Homo sapiens: one gene and its partner. The protein of the gene in region 2 interacts with the protein of the main gene of each other region in a biochemical or structural test. Each region holds a gene or a part of one and is shown on either strand. Other genes may lie near its edges.

Region 1 (7,029 bases), on a different chromosome or scaffold from region 2:
AATGTACCAGAGCTCACTTAAAAGCATAGATATTCCTTGCCACACAAACCCTGACTATCCAAATCCAGGAGACTGAAGGATTCTTGCAGATATTCAGATTAGGCCCTCACATGCCAAATTATCAGGAGTCAATTTCTGAAACTCAGGAACCAAATAGATTAGGATCATATGCTATCCCTTCCTTTCCAAACTCTGGTTACTGAGACTCACTGCTTGACCCCAGTTACTGTGTTGAGCTCATGTTTTGACCCCCTGCTCTTTTATGTTTCCATCTTGAGTGATGCAGTTGAGAGTTCCATATCTTTTTGTATATGATTTTGGAACAAGTTTCTGTATTGACACTTGAATTTGGGTGTGCTAGGTAAGTGCTGAACATCCTGATGGCATCCTTCCAGCAAGCCACGCCACAATGTCCAAATGATATTTCCTTATCTCTAGTAGAACCTTGAAAGTGGGATGGCTGGGTCCAAGGATTAGTGCATATAGCTGGGTGTGGTGGCTCATGCCTGCAATCCCAGCGCTTTGGAAGTCCGAGGTGAGAGGATCACCTGAGGTCAGGAGTTCCAGATCAGCCTGGCCAACATGGTGAAAACCTGTCTTCACTAAAAAATACAAAAAATTAGCCAGGCGTGGTAGCAGGCATCTGTAATCCCTGCTACTCAGGAGGCTGAGGCAGGATAATTGCTTGAACCTAGGAGGCAGAGGTTGCAGTGAGCCAAGATCGCGCCACTACACTCCAGCCTGGGAAACATGAGCAAAATTCTGAGTCAAAAAAAAATTAAATAAATAAAAAATAAGTGGATGTATAGTTTGGCTAGCTATTTCCACACCCTTCTCCACAGGAGATGGATCATTTTGGACTTCTGCCTGTTTCCCCACAGCTTTGTCAACAGAGTGCATTGTCATCTTTGGGAACAGTTTTGTATACTGTTTTGTCTCTTACCACCTTTTTTCCTCTGCAGACAGAGAATGTCCCAGTTACACTATCAGAGGAGAACCGTTCTGAAGGAAAAGTTGGTTTTCAGGCCTATAAGAATTACTTCAGAGCTGGTGCTCACTGGATTGTCTTCATTTTCCTTATTCTCCTAAACACTGCAGCTCAGGTAAATAATGACATTTGTTTTGCGCCCTCAAAATGATATTTACAGTACCTATGTTTATGCTATTATGACTGCATCTTGCAGTTCACTTGGGGTCTGAATTGAAATGTGCTGTCTTTGGGGAACAAAGTGAGGGCTGCCTACTGGTGTTCCATGTCCGTTACAAAGACCTGCGAAAAAAGGGTATCTTTCAATGATTTTAAAATGGAATATGCATTTTCTTGAACCCTTGATATCTGGGAGTTTGGGCTTGGCACAGACCTGAGCTGGAAGAACTATGCGAGTTCTCTGAGCCTTTTATTCTTTCTTTCTTTCTTTCTTTCTTTTTTTTTTTTTTTTTGAGATGGAGTTTTGCTCTGTTGCCCAGGTTGGAGTGCAGTGGCGCGATCTTGGCTCACTTCAACCTCTGCCTCTGGGGTTTAAGCAATTCTCCTGTCTCAGCCTCCGGAGTAGCTGGGACTACAGGCACATGTGCCACCATGCCCAGCTAGGCTAATTTTTGTATTTTTAGTAGAGATAGGGTTTCACTATGTTGGCCAGGCTGGTCTCGAACTCCTGGCCTTAAGTTGATCCGCCTGCCTCAGCCTCCCAAAGTGCTGGGGTTTACAAGCATGAGCCACCACGCCCGGCTTTGAGGGCTTTCTTTCGGTTGTCCATGTTAGCGATTGAGAGTTTTGAGTTGGTAAGTCATGCCCAAGTTTGATTTTTGTCTTTGTTGTTTCTCCCCTCCTAGGTTGCCTATGTGCTTCAAGATTGGTGGCTTTCATACTGGTAAGTTATTTCTGGTCTGATGTATGAAATACTCCAAAATCAGTAAGAAGACTCGCTTTTCCATAGAGTTAGAGGGAGGTGTTTGTTGATCCTTCTCTTCTAATCCTCACTTCGTTTACCCGAAGAAAAATTAGAGTGCTTGCTGGTGGAGTGTAAACTGCGGTGGTCTCCACCCATGTCTGATCCGCGGCATCATGTTCACAGACAGTTTCGGGAACTGAAAGTTGTGATTTAAATTGAATTTTTATAAGGTAGATATACACAAGACTAAGTGAGCTGAGAATCATTTTCCAGCATGAAGCGTTTCTCCCAAATTGTGGTTCATTTTTAAAAAAATGTATTTATCTAAATTTCATATATAGCTTAATATTTTTTTCTCCCCATGTTCCATAGGGCAAACAAACAAAGTATGCTAAATGTCACTGTAAATGGAGGAGGAAATGTAACCGAGAAGCTAGATCTTAACTGGTACTTAGGAATTTATTCAGGTAAAGTTTAATCATTTGGTGTATTGTATGAGAGGCTGAGGTGCTTACAATGAGCCTGTGTGAGTAACTAGGGCTTCCAGGAGTCATTCAGTAATGTCTTAACAGATCAGGAGTCTCAGTCGAATTTACTCTGTGAATTAATTAGAATAATTATTTTAAAAATCTACTAGAAGAGAGGTTGACTGAAGACTCTTAATTTGCTCTGTACTGGATTTTGAAAGTTAAACCAGGATTGAGCATTCAGAAAATCAGCCACTGGAAATATGTGGCTATTGTCTATTCTAATAGGTTGCTTTAGCTAAATCTTATATCATTATACGGATGGGCAGGGGGATTAGAAACGGATCTCCACCCTGTGGTTCGGATGGTTCCAATTCTGTCTAAATAAACCCTGGCTTTTATTGAACTTGGATGAAATCCTCTGGCAGCAAGGCCCCCAAAATAAAAGCATTATTCCCTCCCAGGTATGCAAAGCTCCCTTCAGCACTGCTCATCTCCTGGGCTTCACTAATTACTTAAGAGGGAAGCTGAGCAGGGAAAAATCCAGTGTCTGGGAATTAGGATGCCTTCTATTTCTTACCTTGAGATCACAATGTTATCGCGTCCCCAACTGTGTGATTAATTTAACATTTGGCTTGCCAGACTAATATTAACGCCACACTCTGTTTTCACAAGAGTGCTTAGAATGTATGTAGCATTACATACTGTTTAAAGAAAATCTTCATCTAAAATTTTAAATATTTCCACAGGAAATGCTCCTACAAGCTTTCCTCAGAGATAGAGTGAGTTATCTTTGTAAGAACCTACTCAGTGAAATTTGGTGTTTATTTCATCGATCGCTTGCTAAGAAATCTAAATCTGTTAGGTGTTTACCTTCCAACTGATGGACTATGTGGAAACTAAAGGAAGAAGGAAATCTATTATGTTCTATTATGTTCGTGTAGGATGGCAGGCTAAGGATAATGCCCGTTGATGGAGTTAGGAATTTGAGCTGCTTTCAGAGGTTAAATAACAGTGACATGTCATCTGAAAGGGAAATATTTGTTATAGAAGTTACCCCCACTGTATTTAGCATTGTGAATGAAGAGATGTTAGGAAAGCTCTTTTAATTTCTATGTGAATAATGGATCCTCATTCATGTCTTAATAAAATGTATGATTTATTTTATTCATTTAAAAATGTCTTGTGTCTATGTAAAACAGTGGGGGATTAGTTGCTTATTTAGATTAATTATCTTATGTTAAAATATAATTTGTGTTTTCTTGCAATTCAATTATTCAAGAGGTTTTCCACATGCAACTTAATACGGTATTTTTAAATTCTTTAAAGCTACTTGGGCATTTTCTACAAGGAAAAGGTAAATCATTTCTCCTATTCCTTGTTAATATCACATGTTGGTATCAAAACATACCACCTTTTTTAGATTATGGGACATAATGTAAGTAATAAGATTTGGAATATGGAGAAGATCAACTACACTTCATGATTATCTATCCTACTTCTGAGTTTTTAATAGAACTTGCAATTGAATTAGAGCCTAGAATGAAATTGTATTATACACCTGATTTTTCTTTTCTGTGCAGTTTCCATTCAGTGAGAGAAAAATAAACTATTTTAATCCTTCTTTGTCAATGTATTTTGTAAATACATTATACTTATGTAGAATCCAGATGCTTTATGGAATAAATTAAGTAACATCTTTATAAACTACCTGGCTTGCTTTAGCAACTATTGAAGAAAATGCAGAGATATGCTGTGTTCTCTAAGTGATATTTCTTTATTTCAGGTTTAACTGTAGCTACCGTTCTTTTTGGCATAGCAAGATCTCTATTGGTATTCTACGTCCTTGTTAACTCTTCACAAACTTTGCACAACAAAATGTTTGAGTCAATTCTGAAAGCTCCGGTATTATTCTTTGATAGAAATCCAATAGGTAAGTCTGACACCAAGTTTCTCAGTAAGTATGTCTTGTTAACAACACATTTAGGATCTGATTACATTTCCATCTTTGAAAATGGAAGGGATGCTGGGAAGAAAATCACTATGCATGTTGATTCATTTTCCACAAGAAACTTCACTGATATTTTTCTCCTACCAGAGAAAATCTAAATATGCGGGGGGAGGGGGGGGCATACAATCTTTTATTCCAATTTATATGTGTGTGGAAAAATAAATGAATGTTCACTTTGCAGAATGCTTTAGGAATCCATTTGCTGTGAGGCAAGTGAAGCATCCTGCATTCCCTGTAAACATGTTTAAATGTAGTTGAATAGTTGCTAAACATTGGCTGTGTTTACATAGTGTTAGGTTATGCCATTTTTCAGAGGGATCTTTGTAATCAGGAATGCTCTGACGTGAGACAGGCCGTGCATTTCTTTCTTTCATTGGGAAACCCGTTCATTTCTGGAAACACAGGGTTTTTGTACATACCCTGACTGTGAGGTTTCCCTGAAAGATAATATGTGGTTAATTAAAAGCCAAGATTGATAAAATGTAAACTCCCCTTCAAGAACAGTTTCTAACTCTGTGGTTTTGAAGTAGACTTTTGGTTCTATAATAGAGACTTTGTTGAACCTGCCATATAGATCTTCAGTAGCTTGTTTCCTAGGTATACCCAACTATACCCAGTATTTTCCAAGTGGTTGATGCCTCTGCACTATGCGCTTCTTATCTGTCCTGCTTCTGAGGCTAGCCTTCCTGACCTGGGTTCCTAGGGAGAATTAGTTGTGCCTATAAGTCCCCACCCTGCTCAGTTGAGTGGACTTGTGGGGAGGCCTGAGTGACATTGTGCAAATGATAACTGCCCTCATAGAAGCAGGGAGGTGGCCTGGAGAGAACACAGGCACAGCTTTGGCCTGGCCATTGACTAGCTTTTTGACCAAGGCCAGAGCACATAGGTGCTATTACACAGGCAAGTCTCCAAGCAGATGCTGTAGTTCAAAGTGTGAACTCAAGCTAACTACCTGGGTTCAATCCTGGTGCTGGTTACTAATTGTTATAGCTGATTATAGTTACATTCATATTCATGTCCTAGTTACTTAATTTTTCTGTGTCACAGTTTTCTTATCTGTAAAATAGGGATACTATTCATACCCACCAAATTGAAATCTTATGAGAATTAAGCATGTTAATACATTCCTAGCACATGAAACTGGGTGTAGCAACATGGTCAGTGCCTAACGAATGTTAGTGACAATGAAGCCATGTATCTGTGAACTGAATCACCTTCACTGTGGGGTGGAAATTACTCCTACCCTCTCTGTTTTACATGATTTTTGTGAAGATTAAAGAAGACTGTTCTGGAAAGCATCTTGTGTAGATTTATTTAACAAATACTTTTCAGTCCAAGCACTGTGCAACGTGCAAGGATTTGTAAACTGCAGAGACCACACAAATATCGGTCTGATTTCAGCTGTTATTAGAAAGTCATTGGAGGACCTCTGCGCTATTACAGCTGTAACGTTGCGCCACTTTGCCAGTTAATTTGAAACTACAGTCATAACATTTGGAGCATTAAGTGGGACTGCCTTTCTGTTATCACAGGCCTCGGAATGCTCATGACTACCATTAACCAGCCTCTCCATGTTTGAGACCTGTGGGCTTCTCCTCATGCTGATTTATTTATTATTCAGGGATTTGGGACCCAGTCTAAATCTTGGAGGTGACTAATCTTACAGCAGCACCTGAGTGTTTATCTTGCTTCCTCCTCCTATATCTATTAGCATGACTTTATTCCTTCAACAAAATAGAAGCCCAAATAAGTACCCCAAGAGAGGTCTACTTTGTCCAAAATGTTTAGAGGTCATGAATTATTTACTTTTTTTAGTGGTAGATGTTGAAAAAATGTAAAAATTAAAAGTTTTTTAATGGTAGAATTAAAATTTTCATTTAGATAAAATTTTTGCACTTTTTACAATGGTGAAGGATACACAAAATCTGTGAATTACGCCTCAGAATTCACATTACTGATTGTATGCACTTCAATAGTTATATATATATATATATATATATATATATATATATATATAAAATTTATTTAGAAATAAGGTCTCATTCTGTTGACTAGACTGGAGTGCAGTGATGTGATCACAGCTCACTGTAGCCTTGACCTCCTGGGCTCAAGCGATCCTCCTGCCTCAGCCTTCCAAGTAGTTGGGACCACAGGCCTGTGTCACCATGGCCAGCTAATTTTTAAAATTTATTTTATTCTATTTTGAAGAGATGGGATCTCACTATGTTACCCGGGCTGGTCTCGAACTCCTGTGCTCAAGGGATCTTCCTGCCTCAGTCTCCTCAAGTGCTGGGATTACAGGCATGAGCCACTGGACCCAGCCGGCTTTATAATATAAATAAAAATTCCCCTCTATGATAGTGAGGCAGGCATGCTCGATTTTTCAGTACTCTTAAACATACATGTTAAATATGTATAAGTATCTGGCATGATGTTGTGCCCCCTGAATTGCAGAGTGTTCTTTGAGTGGGGTAGAAAGACTGGGAAGCATGTCTGAATACTTAGTTATTAAAAGCAAGCTCTTAGAAGAGCCCCGGGGGAGTTTCCTATGAGCTCAGCATCCTGATATTCTCCCAGGTTTTAGAAAACTTAGGAAACGGGGAGGACCTCTGCTGGCATGTAGTTTCCAGTAAGCTCACCTTGGGATGGTGACTGGCAC
Region 2 (7,029 bases):
GGAGGAGGAGACTCAAAAGGAACATAGCCCCAGTGAGTTCCGGAGGGCAAAGTGGGACCTCCAGTGACGACGACAGCCTGGGAGACCCAAGTTCAAGACAAAATCAGGATCTGCTCAGAGAGGAGACTGGCAGAGAGCCAGAATCAACAGGAGGGAACATGAGGCCATGCAGCCGATGGGCAGCGCAGCTGGGCCGGGGTGACCCAGGGCTGGACAGGCTGGAGACTCTCACTTTCACAAAATGCTGGCTGGCTTTCCAGAAAAGACCCTGCCCGGAGAGCTGCCCCCACACCCTTCTCCCGGGGCCTCCTCCACCCTCAGGCTTCCTCCCTTCATCTGTCCTTTCCCCCAGGGAGCTTCACCGCGCCCTAAGTGGCCGCCCCATCACCTCCACCCACGCAGTCCAGGGAGCGGATGGCGGGCACGGAATTCAATAGGCGCCACCAGCAGTCACCTGGAAAGCTGGGGAAAGTCGATACCCTAATCCCAGTGACCGTCTCTGGGGAACAGGCCCAGGGCCGCTCCCTGCTCCTCCTTCCTCCCTTCAGGGAAGGCTGTGGGAGCCTGGGGGCCAACGCCCCATTGGGCCCAGCCCCTCCCTGGCTGATGCCATGGTGATGGGCCCTACAGAAACAGCCCAGCCCGCTTCCTTCGAGCCAGCTAGCTCAGGACCCCAGAGGAAAGGGGCTGGAGGAGTAGGAAGACCACTTGGGTGTCCAGGGGAACAACAGAGGTAACCCCACCTCTCAAGACTGCCCCTCCCCCAGCCCAGGGCTCTTGTTTATGCAAAGAAGACCAGTGCCCCATGCCCAATACAGGAAAATCAGCCCCAACAAGAGGATGGAAGGGGGCAGGACGGCGGGGGCAGGAAGGAACCCTGGCTGTTCTCAGGGGCTGGGGTGTGTGTGTCAGGAGTATGTTGGGTGTAAGAGCCATATTTGCTCTGGGAGACAGCTCAGTTTGTTCCCCAGATTCTGGAGACAGGGCTGGGCCTGGTGCCAGCTCTTCAAGGAAGCCAGGATGGAGACAGCTGGCCCTGCCTGGAGTGCTGTGTGACGGGCAGCCTGGGGGCACTGGGAAGTGACCAGGGGCTCCAGGCACTCAGCCAGTGTCCACACCTCTAGGCAGAAGGTGTCTTCTCCTTACCCTAGGTGAGGTACAGGGGGCTTGGCTGTCACTGGCCCCCTGCGTAGTGGCCCTGATGTCACCTCATTTTACTCTATGGGACCCCCTTCCACCCTCCACATCCCTCCAGGTCTGTGCGGGCGGCAGGGGAATGTTGGATGTGTCCATTTTAAAAAAAGTCACTCACTGCTCCTAGCCCTTGATCTCTTCCTTCCTATTTCTCAGTGGGAAGAGCTTTCCCTGGAGTCTGGTAGGGTGGGAACCAGGAGGGAGACACAAACTAAAGTGAGGTCTGCTGGTCTGACAGACACCCCCAGGACTCAGAGGTCTGAAACAGGTTCTCCTTCTGGCTAGTAACCTCTTCTCCCTGTGCCAGCCATGGAGACCCACGGGGGCAAGAGGGGGCAGAGTCTGGCTCAGGTCTCTGCAGGGCTGGGCAAGCCTGGGATGGAGCAGGCTGGTACCTGGGCTGCAGCCCGGCTGGACACCATCCAGGGCTGGCCGCCCCATGCCTTCCCTGCTGCATCCTTCCTCATCCCTCACCCTCCTCCCAGAAGTCTCTAGATTTAACCCCCAGGGGTTGTCCCAAGGGGCTATTAAGAACCTTCAAGGAGCTTGTGAAATTGGGGCTCAACACTGAAGTAACAAATAGCAGCTGCTATTTACTGAACACCTACTATGTGTTAGGCACCGAGCTCTTTACATGTGTTTTCTTCTTAAGAGCCAATTATAGTCCTAAAAGGAAAGTATTATTGCCAGCATTTCACAGAAAAGGAAACCCAGCTTCAAAAAGCTGGAGTCAGTTGCTCAAGTACACATGGCTGACGGGCAAAGGCAGGATTTGAGCTCAGATCCAGAGCAGCACTGTCCAGTAGATATATAATGCCAGCCATGTGTGGAATGTAAGATTTTCTAGTCATCACATTTGAAAAAGGAAAAATAGGCCGGGTGCAGTGGCTCACACTTGTAATCCCAGCATTTTGGGAGGCCAAGGCAGGTGGATCACCTGAGGTCGGGAGTTCAAGACCAGCATGGCCAACATGGTGAAACCCTGTCTCAACTAAAAATATGAAAATTAGACATATGTGGTGGTGCACACCTGTGGTCCCAGCTACTCCAGAGGCTGAGGCACGAGAACCGCTTGAACCCAGGAGGCGGAGGTTGCAGTGAGCCGAGATCACGCCACTGCACTCCAGCCTGGGTGATAGAGCAAGGCTCCGTCTCAAAAAAAAAAAAAAAAAAAAAAAGAAAGAAAGAAAGAAAAGAAAAATAGGCCAGGTGTGGTGGCTCATGCCTGTAATCCCAGCATTTTGGGAGGACGAGGCAAGTGGATCACTTGAGCACAGGAGTTTGAGACCAGCCTGGTCAACATGGTGAAACCCTATCTCTACTAAAAAAGAAAAATACAAAAATCAGCTGGGCGTGGTGGTGCACAGCTACTTGGGAGGCTGAGGCAGGAGAATCGCTTGAACCTGGGAGGTGGAGCTTGCAGTGAGCCGAGATCGCACCACTGCACTCCAGCCTGGGCAACAGAGCGAGACTCTGCCTCCAAAAAAAAAAAAAACAGGAAAAATAGTAGAATTGAATATTTTATTTAACATAATGTACCCAAAATATTATCATTTCAATGTGTAATCCATTTTTAACAATTGAGCTATTGTACATCCTTTTATTTGTACAATGGCTTCAAAATCTGGTGTGCATTTTGCACACACAGCACGTCTGCATGTGGACCAGCACATCTCGAGTGCCCGGGAGCCTCGCGAAGCTGGTGGCTGCTGCCCGGACAGCACAGACCTGTGCTGCCTGAGACTGCCCCAAACACACTCCTCTAAATACCCCTGGCCATTGCTGTTCCCCTGACCTTAGCACAGGGAGAGGCTGCAGCCTGTCTCGGAGAATTCAGAGCTCTCAGCACCCAGCAGTGAGTGGGACTTGAACCTGGCCAGCATTCTCTGTGTGTTCCCACACCACCCCGAGGTGACCTGGACCTCAGGGAATCTGTAACTCTTGTCCTTTTCTAGGGCCTAGGGACCTAAACATTGCCTAGGAGTCTGGGGACATGGTGAGTTGTCCTACCATGAGGGGAAGGCTTCGGTCAACAGTGAAGACCACCCTTGAGGGGGGCTCTCTGTGCAGGTTCTGGGGAGTGAGGGCGGGGGTAGATACTTGGTTACCAGATTCCAGATTGACCTATCACATCACGTGAGAAGGGATGGGGACAGGAGCCTGCCACTTATGGGCTGAGGCACTGCAAGGATGCCCTGCTAGGGACAGGAGCACCTGGAAGCCCTGGATCCTTACAGGAAGCCAGTTCAAGCAGCCTGAATTTATACCACTGTGATGGTCCAGCTGTGGCTCAGAATATGATGGGCAGAAACACCTGGCAGAGTCAGGCTTCAAGCACAGCCTACTCATGTGGCCAAATGGCTGTGCAGGCACTAGAGTCAGAGGGTTGGGTTCCAAGACACACCCCTGCGCTGTGTGGGAGGAGTCGCTAGCTCAGAGTCCTGGGACCCGCCATGGCCACCTTAACTGATCAAGCCTCAGCCTCCATAGGCAGAGAATGGGGCCAATATCTGCCTCACTGGTGGTCATGTGGATTAAATGAGACAGGCAAGGTTAGTACTTAGCACAGTGCTAGACACAAATAGTAGCTATCATGTATTGAACACTTACTGTCAACCTACAAAATAGAGAAAACAATAGCTAATTTGTCTGGGGGACAATGAAATGCATATTGGCTGGGTGTGGTGGCTCATGCCTATAATCCCAGCACTTTGGGAGACCGAGGCAGGTGGATTACCTGAGGTCAGGAGTTTGAAACCAGCCTGGCCAATGTGGTGAAACCCCATCTCTACTAAAAATACAAAAATTAGCAGGGTGTTGTGACAGGTGCCACCCAGCCTGGCCACCGTGGTGAAACTCCGTCTCTACTAAAAATACAAAAATTAGCAGGGTGTGGTGGCGGGTGTTTGTAATCCTAGCTACATGGAAGGCTGAGGCAGGACAATTGCTTGAACTTGAGAGACGGAGGTTGCAGTGAGCCGAGATCACACCACTGCACTCCAGCCTGGGCAACAGAGCAAGACTGTCTCAGGAAAAAAAAAAAAAAAAAAAAGAAAGAAAGAAAGAAAGAAAGAAAGAAATGCATGTCAACATCTTTATGTCATAGGTAGAGTGCCTAAAGGCACTGTACAAACCTGTTTCCTTCCAGGTAGGGCCACTCTATCTTAGAGCAACGAAAACAGAGGAACATTTGTTATTGGGGTCTAGAGCTCTGGTTTCTCCCTGTAAAGAGTCCTGCAGCACCAACAAGACCTCGGCTGAGCTTCTTCTTTCTTTTTTTTTTATTTTGGAGATGAGTCTCACTCTGCTGCTCGGGCTGGAGTGCAGTGGCGCGATCTCGGCTCACTGAAACCTCCACCTCCCAGGTTCAAGCCATTCTCCTGCCTCAGACTCCCGAGTAGCTGGGATTACAGGCACCTGCCACCACGCCTCGCTAATTTTTGTATTTTTAGTAGAGATGGGTTTTTACCATGTTGGCCAGGCTGGTCTTGAACTCCTGACCTCAACTCCTGACCTCAACTGATCCACCCGCCTCGGCCTCCCAAAGTGCTGGGATTACAGGCGTGAGCCACCGTGCCTGGCCTGAGTTTCTTATTAATTTCCCACCCCACTTTCCCAGGGACCATTGAGATGGGACATCTGGGAAAGGGGAGAAGGACCCCATCTAGACATATGGAGTTCCTTGAGAAGGAAGCCCCCATTCACCCCCCTCCCCCTGTTTTTTTGGTAGAGACGAGGTCTCACTATGTTGCCCAGGCTGGTCTCAAACTCCTGGGCTTAAGCGATCCTCCCGCCTCAGCCTCCCGAAGTGATGGGATTACAGGCACAAGTCACTGCGCCCGGCCAGGAAGCCCCCATCTATCTCCAAGAGAATCATCTCCAGAATTACTGAGTTAACAGGAGCTTGAAGGTAAGAACCAGGGGCTACACTGTTTTGCCAGCAAAGAAAGAGATCCCAACACACAAACAATCACATACCCTGTCCATTTCAAATCCAAACACCCAGCAGCTCAAGCTCTGTTCTGCCCTACCAGAGCTCCAACTTGGTTGGTGTAAAATGGCCCGCCCGCCCTGGGAAAGAGGTTGATGGCCCTCCAGCTAACTGTGCCCCACCACCCACCTTGCTCCCTGGGGTGCCTGCACTCTGACTCTGGGATCAGGGTCAGGGCTGGCAGGAAACACCCCAAACTAGCACTTTCATTTACAAACCTGTCATGCCACCAAATCTTCCCAATAACCCTGCAGGCAGTGCCTTTCACAGAGGTGGAGGCTGAGGGTTGCAGGGAAAAATGAACTCCCAGGATCCCAGAACCAGCACACGGCAGAGCTGGGATTCAAACACTGATCTGGCTGACCCCAAAGCCTGGACTTTTGGCTTTCTAGTTTTCAAATAGAAGCTGCTAGCAGGCAAGAAAGAAGAGTGGGTAGGTTCTATCTGGAATTCCAATCTCTGGGCGGGGCGGGATGAGCTGAATGAGGACAAAGGTCCCTGACTGTTGTTATATATTCATTCATTAATTCAAAAACTGTTTTTGAGAGCCTCCCTACCATGTGCCAAGGACAGCGCTGGGGATAGAAACACAAATAGGCCACAGTTGATGCCCTTGGGCTTACCACGTAGTGGAGAAAAAGGTCACAAACAGATGATTAAAATATTGTGTGTTTAGAGCGATAAAAGATGTAAGGACAAAGAGGAGGCGGAGGCCGAGGCTGGCAGATCACCTCAGCCCAGGAGTTCAAGACCAGCCTGGGCAACACGGTGAAACTCCATCTCTACAAAGAATTTAAAAATTAGCTGGGAATAGTGGTGCATGCCTGTAGTCCCAGCTACTAGGGAGAATGAGGTGGGAGGATCGATTGAGCCCTGGAGGTCGAGGCTGCAGCGAGGCGAGGTTGCGACACCACTCCAGCCTGGGTGGAATCTGTCTCAAAAAAAACAAAAACAAAAACAAAAACAAAAAAAGTGAAGGAAAGGAAATGCTAACTCTGCCTACTGGATTAAGGACAGGCTCCCTGGGAGGGGACAGAAGTGTCAGGGTGTGAAGGCTTAGAGGCTAGAGGGGAATTCGGACCCTGGGTGTGGTTTTGGGGGTAGGGAGGCAGTGGTGAGAACAGGCTGCCAGATGGAGAAGGGCCATGGAACAGCATATAACTCTTAAAAAAAAAAAAGAAAAAATTTAATAGAGACAGGGTCTTGTCATGTTGCCTAGGCTGGTCTCAAACTCCTGGGCTCAGGCGATCCTCCCACTTTGGCCTCCCAAAGTGCTGGGATTACAGGTGTGAGCCACCACACCTGGCCACAACGTATCATTCTTAACCCACAGTGACCATCGATCAGGCACTGACTGTGTGCCAGGCTTGGCCACAGTGGCATTTGCCCAACTAGGCAGGCTGACCCAGCGCTAGCTGCCCCATGATAGGTGTGCAATGATCACTATGAAATATGTATTCATTCCAATACCAACTGCAAAGGCTGGCTGAGCCTGGACTCAGTGCCAGGCACTGAGCTACGTGCTTTACACACAGCCTCATGCAATTCCGAGGTAGCTGCCATAACCCCCAACTTACACAAGAGGAAATGGAGGCTTACAGAGGTGAGGTAACTTGGCTTCGCACAGCCTGGCTAGTACAGCTGAGCTGGCTCGGCTCTGCCCGGCCGGCACTCTGAACCCAGACTCAAGGGTTTAGGCCTCATCCTGTGACTGGTGGTGAATGGGGGGAGGAGGGCTTTAAGCAGGGGAACAGCAGGGCGGGTCTTGCTGCTCCTCTCTCCCCACGGGGCAGGCGGGGAAGGCCATCCACAAAGCAAAGCCGGTGGGCAGAGCTGGAGAGCCA

What was found.
Region 1: the proteins of NHERF1 (region 2) and ABCC4 form a complex in vitro, tested with the Homo sapiens proteins (3 studies listed by BioGRID and IntAct, with this or other methods).

What each region holds. Positions count from the first base shown.
Region 1 is NC_000013.11:95,158,452-95,165,480, reverse strand, and holds part of ABCC4 (ATP-binding cassette sub-family C member 4), read left to right. Parts: intron 1-962; coding exon 963-1,103; intron 1,104-1,833; coding exon 1,834-1,871; intron 1,872-2,264; coding exon 2,265-2,359; intron 2,360-4,145; coding exon 4,146-4,292; intron 4,293-7,029. UniProt on the Homo sapiens protein: ATP-dependent transporter of the ATP-binding cassette (ABC) family that actively extrudes physiological compounds and xenobiotics from cells.
Region 2 is NC_000017.11:74,751,617-74,758,645, reverse strand, and holds part of NHERF1 (Na(+)/H(+) exchange regulatory cofactor NHE-RF1), read right to left. Parts: intron 1-7,029. UniProt on the Homo sapiens protein: Scaffold protein that connects plasma membrane proteins with members of the ezrin/moesin/radixin family and thereby helps to link them to the actin cytoskeleton and to regulate their surface expression. Necessary for recycling of internalized ADRB2.